Linked DNA regions of Homo sapiens: region 2 is linked to region 1. The links come from fine-mapping of genetic effects on gene expression. A gene starts in region 1. The other region holds a variant in brackets. All regions are shown on one strand. Distances are from middle to middle.

What was found.
Region 2: its variant is fine-mapped to the expression of DNAJB6 in subcutaneous fat (GTEx, PIP 0.96). The same link has a PIP of 0.9 or more in gastroesophageal junction.

Annotation. Positions count from the first base shown.
Region 1 is chr7:157,333,335-157,341,791 of GRCh38, forward strand. It overlaps DNAJB6 (DnaJ heat shock protein family (Hsp40) member B6), which reads left to right and starts at 3,670. Exons shown (of 10, transcript NM_058246.4): 1 at 3,670-3,810. RefSeq lists enhancers at 769-848, 3,118-3,620, 3,621-4,124, 4,853-4,902, 7,205-7,725 and silencers at 3,383-3,542, 3,733-3,942, 4,003-4,192.
Region 2 is chr7:157,366,014-157,374,470 of GRCh38, forward strand. DNAJB6 (DnaJ heat shock protein family (Hsp40) member B6) reads left to right here. Exons shown (of 10, transcript NM_058246.4): 4 at 489-548; 5 at 1,360-1,470. Among named protein-coding and RNA genes, the nearest start is that of DNAJB6, 33 kb to the left of the region's middle. RefSeq lists a silencer at 7,414-7,612. The variant T/C (reference allele first, on the strand shown) is at 3,361.

The DNA of each region.
Region 1 (8,457 bases):
TAATTTTTTGTACTTTTAGTAGACATGGGGTTTCGCCATGTTGGCCAGGCTGGTCTCGAACTCCTGACCTTGTAATCTGCCCACCTCAGCCTCCCAAAGAGCTGGGATTATAGGCGTGAGCCACTGTGCCTGGTCATAATTTTCTATGTATTTATTTTTGAGACAGGGTCTGTGTTGCCTAGACTGGAGTACAGTGGTGCTCTACTGAAGCCTGGACCTCCCTGGGCTGAGGTGATTCTCCCACCTCAGCCGCCTGAGTGGTTGGGACTATAGGTGTGTGCCACCGCACTTGGCTAATTTTGCTATATTTTGTACAGATGGGGTTTCACCAAGTTGCCCAGGCTGCTGTCGAACTCTTGAGCTCAAGCAATCTTCTCGCCTCGGCCTCCCAAAGTGCCAGAAAAAAATAATTTATTTTTGGTAGAAATGGGGTCTTGCGGTGTTACCTAGGCTGGTCTGGAATTCCTAGGTTCAAGCAATCCTCCTGCCTCAGCTTCCCAAAGTGCTGGGATTACAGGTGTGCACCACTGTGACCAGCCTGATACGCGTTTTAATGTGTGTGTGTGTGTGTATATATATATACACACACACACATACACACACATATATTTTCTTTTTCGAAGGGGGAAAAGCTATTTGTGGCTAGCCTACCACTTACAATGTAAAATTCATGTCTGTGCTGCTTACATTTCAAGATGAGCTCACAATCACTGTAGGGACGTATTGACATGTAAAATGTCCCATGATAGTACTGTCTGTCCACACTGAGATGGAACTAAACCTCCATCAATCTGCAAGCAGATAGGTTACATGTGACAGTGCCAAGCTGTGCACATATCTGAAATTCCAGTCTTTGCTGAGATTATTTTAGGTTTTATTATGAGATGCCCATACTAACACAAACTATTATTTCTTCCTTTTGAACAGTCATTTATATAACCAGTAAAAAAAGAGAATAGAGGCTGGGCTTGGTGGCTCATGCCTGTAATCCCAGCACTTTGGGAGGCTGAGGTGGGTGGATCACCTAAGGTCAGGAGTTTGAGACCAGCCTGGCCAACATTGTGAAACCGCATCTCAACTAAAAATACAAAAAATTAGGCATGCATGGTTGCTCATGCCTGTAATTCCAGCTACTCAGGAAGCTGAGACAAGAGAATCACTTAAACCTGGGAGGTGGAGGTTGCAGTGACCCTAGATTGTGCCACTGCACTCCAGCCTGGAGGACAGACAGAGAGACTCAGTCTCAAATAAGAATAGAGAATCCAGTCAGATTTTCCTTTGCTAACTGATCATTTGCTAGAAATGACATGCAGTAATACAATTAAAGTTTAAGAAACACAAAAAATGAGCCCAGCACAGCGGCTCATGCTGGTAATCCCAGCACTTTGGGAGGCTGAGGCAGGAGGACTGCTTGAGCCCAGGAGGTTAAGGCTGCAGTGAGCCATGATTGAACCACTGCACTCCAGCCTGGGTGACAGAGCAAGACCCTGTCTCAAAAAAAAAAAAAAAAAAAAAAAAAAAAGGGCAGTATTTCATTTTGAAGTATAACAATTACAGCCATTAACCAAGTGTTCCAGTTGTCTAAAATGAGGCAGGTGTAGACGGAAAATTTTCCCTGTACTCTCTGAAGGTTTCACAACTGAGTCTCTGAACTAAGCTGACAATAGACAGATTCGTAAGAGAAAAAGTATACAAATCTATAACATGTACTAGGGCATCCCAGAATCCAGTGAGATCTGGAAGCTTATACAGCCCCTTCATAGAAGAGAGGGGAGGCAGATGCAGGCAGCTCAGGGGAGAGAAAATGATTTTTTGCCTTCAGAATAGGTGGTGGCCTGTGGCAAAATCTGTCTGGGTGTGCAGCTGACGTCCCTTGAAGCTCTTCTCCCGTGATCCTGGCTCATTCTTCCCTGGATGAGACTTCCAGGGAGGGGGTCAAGACAATTGAGTCCCTTTGGGATGATCTGTCTTTATGTAAATAATGGGGGATTCACAGAATGCCCCTCCCTGCATTGGCAGGTCCCCATGTGCCCTCAGTTTGAGGGCATACTAATGTGGTAATCAGTGAACTAGTTAGTAATCAGTATCCTAATATGGCATAATTCAGGGTGGCATTTCTCCAACTCTTTCATTACTAACGAGCTATTTTAAACCAAAAGTGATTCAAGTGTTAAAGTGCCTTTTACTTGAATATCTCCCAGGCTTAAACGATCACGAATTCATAAGCGTTGTTAGTTCAGAAGGTGGCTGAGCAGGCCCCCGGAATTCAGTGTCAGCATGCCACAGGATCTGAAGTTCAGGAAAGGTGTAACAAAAAGGGATTTTTCTTTTTTCTTGAGACAGAGTTTCGCTCTTGTTGCCCAGGCTGGAGTGCAATGGTGTGATCTCCGCTCACTGCAACCTCCTCCTCCTGGGTTCAAGCGATTATTCTGCCTCAGCCTCTGCAGTAGATGGGATTACAGGCATGCACCACCACACCTGGCTAATTTTTTTTGCATTTTTAGTAGAGACGGGGTTTCTCCATGTGTCAGGCTGGTCTCGAACTCCCAACCTCAGGTGATCCGCCCGCCTTGGCCTCCCAAAGTGTTGGGATTACAGGCGTGAGCCACCGCACCCAGTTGAGATTTTTATTTCTTAAAGGAAAGGATAAGGTGGGCCAGGACTAAGACAACACAGTAGCAAACATCTGGCTGAATGCTGGAGAGGAAGACAGTGGGAGATCCAGGCCAGGCTCCATGGACGAACTGCTTGTTGGCTCCTTAGGCTTTGGGTCTGCGGGACCCTTTCGCTACTGGGAATGGGAGCCTGTCTGACTGCACTGGGTCTGAGACTCCCTGCTCCTGCTGGTCACCATCTACACGCATGTGGTGTTGGTCTCCAGGGTTAGAACCAGAACCCCTGAGGACGCGGGAAAGGCTAGGAAGCCTGGGGATGACCTAAAGTCCAGCTATCAAAATGCGCCGCGTTTTCAGAAAAACTACTGCCACGATTTAACCTAAAAAGCTTCATCTGTATTTTCTGCCACAGTTTGCTTCCGTTTCCTTCAGTCACTATTCCCTGGCGAAGTCTCCACGCGCTCCCGTTCGCCGGGGAACTTAGGGTATCCGGGCTTCCCTAAATTGACAAGCGGGGGCCGGCGCCTTCGCCCGCCTTCGCTGGCCGCCGCTTGGTTTGTTCTTCTTCTCCTTCGGGGACTTCTCCGCCCGCGCCCGCGCCCGCGCCCCAGCTTTCGTCCCGCTGTGCGGAGATGCCACCCAGCTCCACCGCAGGACCGCGGAGCGAGAGGCGGCAGACGCGCTCCGGGGGCCGCCGGTCAAGAGGAAGATGAAGGGCGCGACGACTTCGCGGTTTCCAGAATGGGCTCCTTCTGGCCCAACAATAAGTGCCATTTGGAATCTTCTCGGCCTTCTCTGTGCCTTCCGCGCGTCTGGGCTCCCCGGTACCGTAGACCCGGCCCCGAGCTCCGCCCCCTCGCCCTGGGCTTCCCCGCCCCCTCGCCCCCAGTCTCCTGGGCTCTTCGGGGCGGCGGAAGAGCCGAGAACCTTCGCGAAGGTGGGGCGGGCGCCCCCGAGGTTGGGCCCGCGGTATGGGCAGTGGAAACTGCGCATGCGCGGCGTCAGGGTCGGGCGGAAGTTGACGCCGCCGTGCCGCCGCCGCGTGACGCATTTCCTGTTTGTTGTTGGAGAAAGGAGAGAAAGGAAAGCGCGAGGAGCCGCCGCCACCACCAGCGCAGCAGTCCTGGAGCTGTGAGGAGATTCGGGCCGTCACCCTGCCTCCCCTGCGTCCCGCCACCGGCCGCTTCTGTCCTCGGTGAGGGTCTGTTCCGAGGGTCGGGGGAGGTCGCCTAGGGCCCCGCGCGCGCCCGGCAGACGGCGGACCTCACCCGGCGCCTGGCAACAGCGCGGGGGGTGACCGGGGTCGCCGGCCGGGGAAAGGACTGGACGGGGCGGGGGCCGTGGCCGGGGTTGCGGGGCGAAGGGTGGGCGGGGTCCTCTGGGTCAGGTCTGGGGCCGGGGCCGGGGCTGGGGTCTGGGGCCGCCCGGCCGCGTCCTCCCCGCCCGGCGTCCTTGCCGGAACGCGGCCCAGCCTCCGCGGCGGCGGTTGGGGGTGGGGCCCGGCCTGGGAGCGGCCGGCTGGGGCTCGGCTGGGGCTCGGCGGGGCCGGCAGCGTGGGAGGCGTGGAGCGCCTTCTTTTTCTAAGGCTCCCGCACTCGCGTCTGAAACCAGAAACGGGAGTGGCTTGCGGAGCAGGAATGCCGCAGCCGTGCCGCCAAGTTCGGAGGGAGAAGAAGCAGGTGGGGGACCGCAAAGCCCTGTTTCTAGAACTCCGGACGGATTGTTCAGAAGTTTGTGGAAGAGCAGGCTGCCTTTCTCACTCAGAATGTTTGTCTGCTTTGCTTTGCGTTAAAGAATCTGCACCGTAGTTGATGCAACTGAAGTTTATATAAGAAGTTTACATTAACTCTTACCTAAGGAAGGTCAGTGACACACGCAGTGTAAACTGCAAATCATATATTGGCTCGAGAAAGGTTTTGGCACTAGCGAATTTTTTAAAGGATGGGTTTGCTAGTCAGACGTAAACTTCTGTGCTAACTTCTCACGTAAACGGGGCAGGAAACAGCGCAAGTAGAACGATCGTGCCACCACCGAAGGGGTGCCGCCTGCGAGCTCGGAGGCTTCAGCCTGTTTGGGAAGAGTAGGCTGAGCGGCGCTCTTTGTAGTTTTCAACGTTTTTATTGAGTTGCGAATTTTAGTAAGGATTTGTCGCTACAATTTAAGCCAAATTATTGATTTAGTAGAAAAGTTAGAGTGAAGACCGAAGAAAGGAAACAGACGTTAACCATTAAAGCTTGATTGCTGCTGCTTCGTGTTTAACCGCACTTTTCCAAATAGTGTTGCGTATCAGAACGATTCATGATTTCTGAAAGGAATTATATGCAGCCGCCTTACTCCTCCGCCAGTCCACCCGTCCCGCGTTCTCTCTGGGTTTACTCCAGACTTCCTTTTTTTTTTTTTCCTGAGACGGAGTCTGTTCTGTTGCCCAGGCCAGAGTGCAGTGGCGCGATCTCCACTCACTGCAACTTCCAGCTCCCAGGTTCAAGCGAGTCTCCTGCCTCAGCCTCCTGAGTAGCTGGGGTTACGGGTGCTCGCCACCATGTCCGACTAATTTTTGTATTTTTAGTAGAGACGGGGGTTTCACCGTGTTGGTCAGGCTGGTCTCGAACTTATGACCTAAAGTGATCGCCTGCCTCGGCCTCCCAAAGTGTTGGGATTAGAGGCGCGAGCCACCGCGCCTCGCCGACTCCAGACTTGTTTCCACTCCTGAGGGCCTTAAGCTCCCTTGGAGTTTGTGCTTTCACATTTCTTTCTGCCTTCCGTGATAAAGGGATGAATAGTTTTTATGCACGCTTCAGCGAGCTGCGGGTTTTTGTGGATTACGCAGGCTGTGAAATTTGGGAAGTAAGTTGCCTTAAGTTGGTAGATGTGGAGATTTGACAGGAAGTGGGAGAACAAAGGGGTTGGGAAGCTTTTGGAAAGTGTCCAGGCTTCATCTGTGCTGTGGAAGGTGAGAAAGTTGGGAATTCCAGAGGGCAGAGCTCTTAAAGAATTTGAGATGAGTTCAGCACTCTCTTCAAAACAGTGTTTTAAAATTTATTTTCTTCTGGATATGAAAGTGTTAGGTTTGGGAAGTAATTCTGGCTGTAGGACAGTTTTTCCGGAACACTAGGTGGGGAGTGTTGAATGTTGTGAAGACTAAAATATGCATATGGTATTACAGTGTGATACCTGTTACTGAGTGGCGTACATTAGCTTTCATTTTTAAGCAAGCCCGTAATTCCCTTCTATTAACTCTGTTTTGGACAGTGGTACCCGTCACCCTCATCAGTCTTCAACCTAGATAACCTAAATCCAGGTCTGAGGTGGGGGTGGAATGGTCTGTTTGCACCTTTTTTTTTTTTTTTTTTTTTTTTTTTTTTGAGACGGAGTCTTGCTCTGTCGCCCAGGCCGTAATTAATGCGGTGGCGCGATCTCGGCTCACTGCAAGCTCCACCTCCCGGGGTCACACCATTCTCCTGCCTCAGCCTCCCGAGTAGCTGGGACTTCAAGCTTCCGCCACCACAGCCGGCTAATTTTTTTGTATTTTTTTAGTAGAGACGGGGTTTCACCGTGTTAGCCAGGATGGTCTTGATCTCCTGACCTCGTGATCCGCCTCCTCGGCCTCCCAAAGTGCTGGGATTACAGGCATGAGCCACCGCGCCCGGCCTTTTGTGTGTGTGTGTGTGTGTGTGTGTGTGTGTGTGTGTGTGTGTGTGAGATGGAGTTTAGCTCTTGCCCCTGCTGGAGTATAATGGCACCATCTTGGCTCACTGCAACTTCGCCTCCCAGGTTCAAGCGATTCTCCTGCCTCAGCCTCCCGAGTAGCTGGGATTACAGGCATGCGCCACCACGCCCAGCTAATTTTTTCTATTTTTATTAGAGACGAGGTTTCACTATGTTGTTCAGGCTGGTCTCGAACTCCTGACCTCAGGTGATCCACCCGCCTCGGCTTCGCAAAGTGCTGGATTACAGGTGTGAGCCCGCGCGTCCGGCTGTCACTTTAAAGAGTATTATAAGAGGGCACTTCATAACTTGGGCAGGTATTTTTAGTCATCCTGAACGTGTCGCTGTGGACTGGGTGTCACCGCGGGACCGCACAGACACCTTACTGTCGTCTGCTGTAAAGGTCAGCTTCTATATTGGTTAATGCTTACAGATATCTGTTGAGGAATAAGAGAATGTAATTAGCCTTTGTATTTGTGAGTTGACGTTTTGACGGGATTTTTACTTCTTAGTATTTATTTGCATCGAGGTTACACACTGGATTAACAGCGTTTTTTGGAAACCTTTTTAAAACTTTTTCATTTCCTCAGAAATGATTCTGTTCAAAATGTGGTTTGGTTAAATTTGTGCAGGACCCCACCTGGTGGTGAGAGGCGGGTAACTGCAGGCTCATTAGCGAGTAAGAGTAGGATCAGTGGCAGGATTTAGCAAATGGTGTAGTTCAAGGATGAATAGAATTTGAGAATATCAAACTCAAAAAAATGAGGTTAATGAGAAGAAGAGCAAAGTTGGTGAAAACAAGAATATGTTAGAAACGATGATGTAGGAATGGAAAAACGACAACGCCTACCTGCAGAAAAGTCAACTAGTAAAAATGTGATTTTTTTTTTTGTATTGATATTAATGAGGTGTTTTGTCAAACAAAACCCTTTATGTTTTTGTATGGACATAAATCACTGTTGACCTGTTTCATGTTCCTGGAGATATCCTACTTGAGAAGGAATATTGATTGATGATTAGTTGACTGACTGATTTACTTGAGATGGAGTCCTTGCTCTGTGTCCCAGGCTGGAGTGCAGTGGCGCGGTCTTGGCTCACTGCACTCCTGGGTTCAAGCCATTCTCCTGCTTCAGCCTGCCAGGTAGCTGGGATGACAGGCGCGTGTCACCACGCCTGGCTAATTTTTGTATTTTTAGTAGAGACGGTTTCACCATGTTGGTCAGGCTGGTCTCGAACACCTGACCTCAGGTGATCCCCTGCCTCCGCCTCCCAAAGTGCTGGGATTACAGGCGTGACCCACCGCACCTGGCTGTGTGTGTGTGTGTGTGTGTGTGTGTGTGTGTGCGCGCGCGCAGGTGGAATCACCCTGTGTGCCCAGGCTGGTCTCGAACTCCTGGCCTCAAGTGAGTCTTTCATCCCGGCCTGTCAAAGTGCTAGAATTACAAGTGTGAGCCAGGTGCCTGGCCAGATTTTAGATTTTTTTGTTGTTGTTGAGATGGAATCTCATATTGCCCAGGCTGGATGCAGTGGCGCCATCTCGGCTCACTGCAACCTCTGCCGCACGGGTTCAAGCGATTCTCCTGCCTCAGCCTCCCGAGTAGCTGTGATTACAGGCACCTGCCACTGCTCCCGACTGATTTTTGTATTTTTAGTAGAGACGGGGGTTTCACCATCTTGGCCAGGCTGGTCTTGAACTCTTGACCTCGTGATCCACCCGCCTCGGCCTCCCAAAGTGGTGGGATCACAGGTGTGAGCCACTGCGCCAGGCCATATTTTAGAATTCTTAAGCTGTGTTGCAAAATTACGTGTCTTTGGAAGGGTGATTTAGTTTACACTACATATGATTTTTCCCCCTTTGATATTTTTCTACTTACCTTTTGCCACCAAAGGCTTAAATTAAAAGTGTGTTTTATATTTGTGTTGTGCATATATACGTGTGTGCTCTAGTTGGTATGCTTATGAACTGTGTACTAATACTTATTCCTCTCTGCCACCTTGAGATGGCATGTACCACTTGGGTGGGCTTTGAATCTGAAGTTATTTGTGTTTATAGGAATGTCCAGGACACAGAGTGCTTAGAAAGTATTGATTGAATTAGATTCTTTCTAGTTTGTGTATGTCCTGATGACCTTCCTGT
Region 2 (8,457 bases), 33 kb after region 1:
GATCTTGGCTCACCACAAACTCCGCCTCCCGGGTTCCAGCTATTCTCTTGCCTCAGCCTCCTGAGTAGCTGGGATTACAAGTGCCTGCCACCACGCCTGGCTAATTATTGTATTTTTACAAGAGATGAGGTTTCACCATATTGGCCAGGCTGGTCTCAAACTCCTGACCTCAGGTGATCTGCCCACCTTGGCCTCCCAAAGTGGTGGGATTACAGGTGTGAGCCACCATGCCTGGCCGTAAATACTTAAATATTTCTAATAACTTGTAAAAATTCAACATACTGAATTTTTTTTGAATTGTTTTTCAGGAGAGAGGTACAGAAAGTTTTCCCTGTTGCTTTGTTTTGTTTTAAAGAAAAGGTGGCCATACTCCTTGAAATTCAGTTGTAAAACATCGAAAACTGATTTACAACTGGGGAAATACCTTATCTATTGAATTAAGGGTTTAAAAGGAACTTGGCCTTACCGACTTTTCTTTCAATTTTTAGCTAAGAAACGGGACATCTATGACAAATATGGCAAAGAAGGATTAAATGGTGGAGGAGGAGGTAAGTACGTGAGTTTTTTCTTTGAAGACAAAAGGTCTTGGCAAGTAAGTTGAGTTTGTAAATCACGAGTCTCTTGGTCAGAGTCGATTTTGTATCAGTAAATAGAGATGCAACGTAGAAAGCGAACTAAATTGGGGAGAGGACAGAGAAATTGATGGCATTTAAAAGTCTTTTACGAGACTAGAAGTATATGTTGATGTATTTTTTATAGATAGAAACAATTTGTAACCATACTGCAATATATTGTGAACATATACCCTTAGATCAGCACTTGACGTTATGTCAAAATATCCTAAGGGTTTAAAGAGCAGATTTTCCTGAAAAGCTAAAATAATGACTTTGAAGGGCGTGGACTTTGTCCCCAAAAGTTCCCACGGTCACTGGGCTGTGACCAGCCTCCCCAGGGGTGTTGGGAAATTATTGCTCCAAACCCACTGGGGCCACGCGGCAGCTTCTGTGGCTCCAGGAGGCCAGTCGTCGAAGTGGATGCAGATACTCTTGGTCTTCATAAACCTTCATAACAAATCATAAAAATGGTGTGTAATGTTACATGTTATATGCCGATCACGGATTTAGAGATGGTGAAAAGTAGTGTCGAAGGGGCCACTGCTGCACTCATATGCCATCAGCGCTGGGCACACTCACTCTCTGTCAGTACAGGGCTCATGTTTTGAATTATAGAGAACTTCAGGTTTATGAAATATTTTTGTTTTTATTAGTTCATGATTTGTATAATGTTTTGTCAACAAAGAATTCTTTGCCTACAAAGCACCAAAATTCATAAACTAAAAGCTGTGTTGTATTTGTGCAGGTGGAAGTCATTTTGACAGTCCATTTGAATTTGGCTTCACATTCCGTAACCCAGATGATGTCTTCAGGGAATTTTTTGGTGGAAGGGACCCATTTTCATTTGACTTCTTTGGTAAGTTAATCACGTGGGTTGACTTGGTGTGTGTCCATGACCCAAATGAGGGCTTACTTAGTATGGCCTTTCTGTTGAATTAACATTGTATTTTAGGCTGGGCGCGGTGGCTCATGCCTGTAATCCCAGCACTTTGGGAGCCTGAGGCGGGCAGATCACCTGAGGTTGGGAGTTCAAGACCAGCCTGACCAACATGGAGAAGCCACGTCTCTATTAAAATACAAAATTAGCCGGGCATGGTGGCGCATGCCTGTAATCCCAGCTACTTGGGAGGCTGAGGCAGGAGAATCACTTGAACCCGGGAGGCAGAGGTTGCGGTGAACTGAGATCATGCCATTGCATTGTTGTCTGGGCAACAAGAGTGAAACTCCTGTCTCAAAAAAAAAAAAGTTAACATTGTATTTTGTCACGAAACTTTGTGTTTAAAGCAGCATTGGACTAGCCTGAACAACATGGTGAAACCCTGTCTCAACAACAACAAAAAAAATACTAAAAATTAGCTGAGTGTGGTGGCGTGTGCCTGTGGTCCCAGCTACTTGGGAGGCTGAGGTGGGAGGATTTCCTTGAGCCTGGGAGGTTGAGATTGGGCCACTGCACTCCAGCTTGGGTGACAGAGCAAGGCCCTGTCTCAAAAAAATAAAACAGCACAGTAGCTGTAAAATCTTTTCTCTTCTTCCTCTTTGAAAATTTAAGTTACAGCTTGAAAAATTAAAATAATAAAGGGTTTAATGTATTTTTTTCTTTGTTATGTATGGCCTTAATTAACTTGCTTTTGCCCTCAGAAGAGACAGTGGTAAGGGCATGGGTGCGAGTGTCTTGGAAACGTTGTTTCCCATTGAACAACCAATTGGTGTGTGAATTTGCCACATCATATTCCTGGTAAAATCATTAAGCACCATAGTACTGTTGGCAAGACCTTTCATCCGTAAACATTGTGTGTGAGGACTGTTGTTGAGAGTTTGCGGAAAGGCACCTCTAGAGCAAGACTGCGGAGGCCTTTGCTGAGGAGAGAATGGTTTTGTTAAGGGAGACAGTGCTGTTATAGCTGCTGTTTGATTGTAGGAAAATGGATTTCTCATCAGTGGCATCTCAGTCCTGATGCCTGGTCCTAGGCGTTGGTGTATGTCTTGGGCACAGTTTGGGTCAGGCACTTTTGTTAGCTGTCTCCTGTTAGAGTCTTCTCAACCACTGGGACTTCCTGAGTGGTGCACTGGGTGACCTGAGAGGTCAGGATTAAACATGTACTCCTGTAGTTGTTTTTGTCTTTTGACTTATTGAAAGGGAAACACATTGTATGTTTACCTCCTTCATTGCCTGGAGCTTGGGTGAAGAAACTGAACACCACCTGCAACTCGAGGAGGGAAAGAGAAGAGTAGTTGTGTCTACAGATAATACAGGGGAGAAACGTGGAGCTCCTGCCTGCCGCAGGCACGAAGAAGCATAATCACTCTCATATCTGGTAGGTCTTGGGCCTTTTGCATGGTGCAGTTCTTCAGTGTGTCTCAAATGGGGATTCAAAGAGGTTGTTCTTACACCTTATTATGGGCTGGCTGGCTTGAAGAGAGCCCCTTTCTGAGGGAGGAAGGACAGTCAGTGGCCTCAAGCATTTTCAGGGAAACTGAAGCTGAGCAGGCGATTTCCGATTAGGGGACCGGGAGACTGGCGTGCTCATCGTTTAAGTGCATTTGCTGTAATCACTGCTGCCATCAGCAGAAACAGAGCTCAAGAAAGAACCATGTTTACATCCGTCCTTCATCAACCCTCACAGGCAAGAAATATTTCTCTAAGAAAAATAATTTACGGATTGATCTCTGTCTTAAAAATGACCTTTGCATCTTGCTGTAGCCTTCAGCAAACTGCATTTGTTGCTTTGCAGGACAGGGCAGTGTT[T/C]GGGTTGAAGTCCTGTGTTCTGATCGGTGATTCTCATGGTGACCAAGCGAGGAAGAAGGCCCGCTCTTCCAACACCATGGCTTCTCTTCTGGGGCACACGAGGTGAAACGGGCTGTCCTCGTGATGTCTGAGACCGGGCGTCTTCAACAGGCCCTGCTTAACATTATGATTAAACAGGGCTTTCTTACCATTATTATTAAACAGGCCGTTTCTCAACATTATTATTAAATAGGCCCCTTCTTAACATTGTTATTAAAGAGGCCCTTTCTTCACATTATTATTAAACAGGCCCCTTCTTAACATTATTATTAAACAGGCCTTTCATAACGTTATTATTAAACGGGCCCCTTCTTCACATTATTATTAAACAGGCCCCTTCTTAACATTATTATTAAACAGGCCTTTCATAACATTATTATTAAACGAGCCCCTTCTTAACATCATTATTAAACAGGCCTTTCATAACGTTATTATTAAACGGGCCCCTTCTTCACATTATTATTAAACAGGCCCCTTCTCAACATTATTATTAAACAGGCCCCTTCTTAACATTATTATTAAACGGGACCCTTCTTAAGATTATTAAACGGGCCCTTTCTTAACATTATTATTAAACAGGCCCCTTCTTAACATTATTATTAAAGAGGCCCTTTCTTAACATTATTATTAAACAGGTCTTTCATAACGTTATTATTAAACGGGCCCCTTCTTAACATTATTATTAAACAGGCCCCTTCTTAACATTATTATTAAATGGGACCCTTCTTAAGATTATTAAACGGGCCCCTTCTTAACATTATTATTAAACAGGCCCCTTCTTAACATTATTATTAAAGAGGCCCTTTCTTCACATTATTATTAAACAGGCCCTTTCTTAACATTATTATTAAACCGGCCTTTCATTAACGTTATTATTAAATGGGCCCCTTCTTAACATTATTATTAAACGGGCCCCTTCTTAACATTATTATTAAACAGGCCGTTTCTCAACATGATTATTAAACAGGACCTTCTTAACATTATTATTAAATGGGCCCTTTCTTAACATTATGATTAAACAGGTCCTTTCTTAACATTATGATTATTATTTTAATTCAAAGGGGAAGGGTCCCTTAGTGACTGAATTGTAGCTAATTTTTGTTTTCCTTGGGGAAAATAATCTGATACACCAAGCCATAGAGCAATTACTTGTAAAGAAGGTATAGAGATCTAATTAGATGTGAGTGAATAAGTGAGTTTTTACCCCTAGTCCAAGGAGAGAGGTGCTAGTCTTACTGAAGCGCTTTACTGTTAAATGCTCCATTTTACATGCAGACCTATTTTAAGACCAGGTACCCTGTGTTTCCCATGATTAGTGTGGCAGTGATACTTGTTCATTCCGTTCTTATAGGTGTTCTAGATGACTTCCATTTTCAGGCTCTCAGGATTTACACACTGGGGAAGCTGCTGCTCCATGGCTGCTATATGTATGTAGTCACTGAGCAGCCTGCTGACGGTATGTTTAATGTAGATGGGTGTGGATGCAGAGCCAGAGGGATTTCCGCTTATTCATGATGTAGTTCAGGGGTCAACACCCTGGTCTGTGGCCTGTTACGAACTGGCCTGTTGGGAACAGGAGGTGAGCGGCGCGCAGGCAGGCAAGCATTACTGCCTGAGCCCCACCTCCTATCAGCTCAGTGGCAGCATTGGAGTCTCATAAGGGCACAAACCCTATTGTGAACTGCACACGCGAGGGACCTAGGTTGCGCATTCCTCATCAGAATCCAGTATCTGAAACCATCCCCCTACCCCAACCCATCACCCACTGTGTGGAAGAATTGTCTTCCATGAAACCAGTCCCTGGTGGCAAAAAGGTTGGGGACCGCTGTTGACAAATCATATTTACTAGACCTGGTGTACTTTCCACGTGACGAAAAAGTAGTTTAAAATGTGCTGTAAGATATTTCCGAGCTGCACTTTACATTTATCAGAATGCAGAACCCCTGCTGTACTTCAGACCTCCCTCATGATAGGTGGGGAAGGGTGAAGGGGTGCCGGATGTTGGACACATGGTATGCAGGTCTGTGCCTGAGCACCAGGCAGTGCTCACTGTCACACTGTGGCCAAGGAGACTTGGGCCTGGGGCCTGCGGTGTGGAACCCGTCCTTTACAGAAGAAGCCCTCCCAGGAGAGGTCGCGGAGGCGGATTCTAACACCAGCCTGGAAGGAATGCTGCCTCTGAATTGGAGGGGTACAATCAAAACTGCTGAGGCTAGGTGACTGTCGAAATTTCCAGAATGTGGAGCACATGCAAATGAGCTCTTGTCGAAATGTTAATTGGAAAATATTAATAGGCAGTGGACTTATTTGAATTAGGATGCTCTCTTTATTTTATTATTAGAGGACCCTATTGCTCAGTGAAATGATGTTCTGAGATAGGAAAGAAAGGGTACCTGATAATAGTGCCTTTTGATCCCATTAGTCACAGCAGGCATTACATCTGGGAAAAGCCTGTGGGTTTAACTTCACATTTTATTTATATTCTTGGAAAACCAAAGCGAACCTTTAAGGTTTCCAGAGAGGCCTTTTATTTTAGCAGTGCAGCAAGTTTTTCCTTTGTAAAGCATCACTGTGGTACGAATGATGCTCTGTAGCAATAGAGGAGGAGTCCTGTGGTATGTAGAACCAAGGAAAGCAGACTTCTTGCAGGAAAAATGAGTGCATTGAGGATAGTAACCTGACTTTCTGACCTGTGATTAAATTATGATAGTAGTCAGTCATTTTACTCTCCCAGGGTTTGAGGAAGTGGCCGGTGAGGACTTGGAGCCTAGTGAGGAGTTAGTAGAGCTGCCCAGGGTGGAGGAGGCCACAGAGGACAGCCCTGGTGAAGAGAACAGTGAGGCCTTGGATGTGTTGATATCCAGCAAGGACCTGGCACTGTCTAGTGAGGACGAGGCCTGCACAGGATGTAACTGGGGCCTGGGCGAGCCCTTCAGCGAGGAGCTGGGGCTCATATCCAGCGAGGACGGGGCCAGCCCTGGGGACGTAGAGGAGCTCGGCGAGGAGTGCGAGGAGCCGCTGAGTGAGGAGGAGCACAGCGGGCCAGAGCTGGGGCGCTGCCGGCACCACCATAAAGTGTCAAGGAGCTGCCCGAGTGGGACTGACTTAAAACAGTGTATCTAGAATAAAATGGTTTCCTCTAGTGCCTTGATACTGTCCTTGGTCAGACGACCTCAGCTGCCTTGGAGATAGAACTGAAGAAGCAAGAGAGGGAGGTGGCAGCCCTGAAGCACAGGCCGGGCGTCTCGTAGGCTCTTTCCCTAGAAGCCAGAGCACAGACCCTGAAGACAGCCTTGAGTTTGATCCGTACCACAAACCGGGGGCTTAAACTACCAAAATGTACCATCTCCCAGTCCTGGAGGCTGGCCATGTGAGACCCAGGTATTGCAGGGCTGGTTGCTTCTGAGGCTGAGATGTGTCCCGTCTTGCTCCAGGCCCTTCCCCAGCTGTTCTTCTCCCTACATTTGCAGACGGATGGCCCATCCGATGTTGACATCATCTCCTTTGTGTCTGTCTCTGTGTCCATTGGATTTAATGTTTTAGAGACAGATTTCACTGTGTTGCTTAGGCTGGCCTCCAACCGCTAGGCTCAAGCAGTCTTCCTTCCTCAGCCTCCCAAGTAACTGATCACAGGCATGAGCCACTGTGCCCAGCCACAAGTTCCCCCTTTTTATAAGGACATCATTTATATTGGCTTAGTGCCCACTGTAATGATTTCATCTTAACTTGATAATCTATAAAGAGCCTGTTCCCAGTAAGGTCACATTCACAGGTACTGGGGATTAGGACTCTAATTTAATCTTTTTTGGGGACCATGATTCAACCACTTTAACATCATATTTCTAACGGGTAGATTTTTGTGCTAGTCTTTGAAATTCACAGCCAAGCAGCAAATTTTGAAAGGTGAAAGGAGGAGGAACCTTTAAAGTTAGACATGTGCCCTCACCCCTCGCTCTGAGACAGAGTTTTGCTCTGTCACCCAGGCTGGAGTGCAGTGGCACAGTCTCAGCTTACTGCAACTTCCGCCTCCCAGGTTCAAGTGATTCTCTTGCCTCAGCCTCCCAAGTAGCTGGGATTTCAGGTACCCACCACCACACCTGGCTAATGTTTGTGTTTTTAGTAGAGACGGAGTTTCACCATGTTGGCCAGGCTAGTCTCGAACTTCTGACCTCAGGTCATCTGCCTGCCTTGGCCTCCCGAAGTGCTGGGATTACATGCGTGAGCCACCATGCCTGGCCAAAGTTAGATGTGTTAATGAGAGCTAGAAGTTAGGGGTCAAGTACAGGCATGGGAGTGGCACAGCAGATTGGATCGGTGTGTGCTGGTGACCTGGACCCACTATCATTACACGGCGCTACAGCAGTTTGTTTGTAATGAGTGTTCTTTGATTACTTTGGACAGAGTTCATACACAGGCACACCTACACACAGGTCACTTAGAAGAAGTTAAGGAGTCTTTTTAAATACACATAAAAACATCACATACTAAGCCAGGCATGGTGGTGTACCCCTGTAATGCCAGCTACTGGGGAGGCTGAGGTAGGAGATTCCTTGAGCCCAGGAGTTCGAGTCCAGCTTGGGAAAAATAATGAGATGCCATCTCTAAAAATTTAAGAAAAAAAGGTTAAAAAATGAAACCGTGATGTACGAGACTGGTTTCCAGCTAAAGTTGTTGGAACCATCCTTGTGTGTAATTTCACATGGTCGTGAAGCAGTGGGCAGTCCCGCCCGGCATCCCCACGCGCTCTTCCTCTCATCTGGTGAGAGTTTCTTGGAGAACATGCCAAACTCATGTATGGTTGTGTGCGTATTTGAGAACTCCTCGTGTTGAGATGGAGCTGTTTTTTGGAAGTATCTCATTTTTTTTGAGATGGAGTCTCACTCTGTCGCCCAGCTGGAGTGCAGTGGCGTGATCTCGGCTCACTGCAACCTGTACCTCCCGGGTTCAAGTGATTCTCCTGCCTTAGCCTCCCAAGTAGCGGGGATTACAGACATGTGCCACCGCGCCCGGCTAATTTTGTATTTTTATGAGAGACAGGGTTTCTTCATGTTGGTCAGG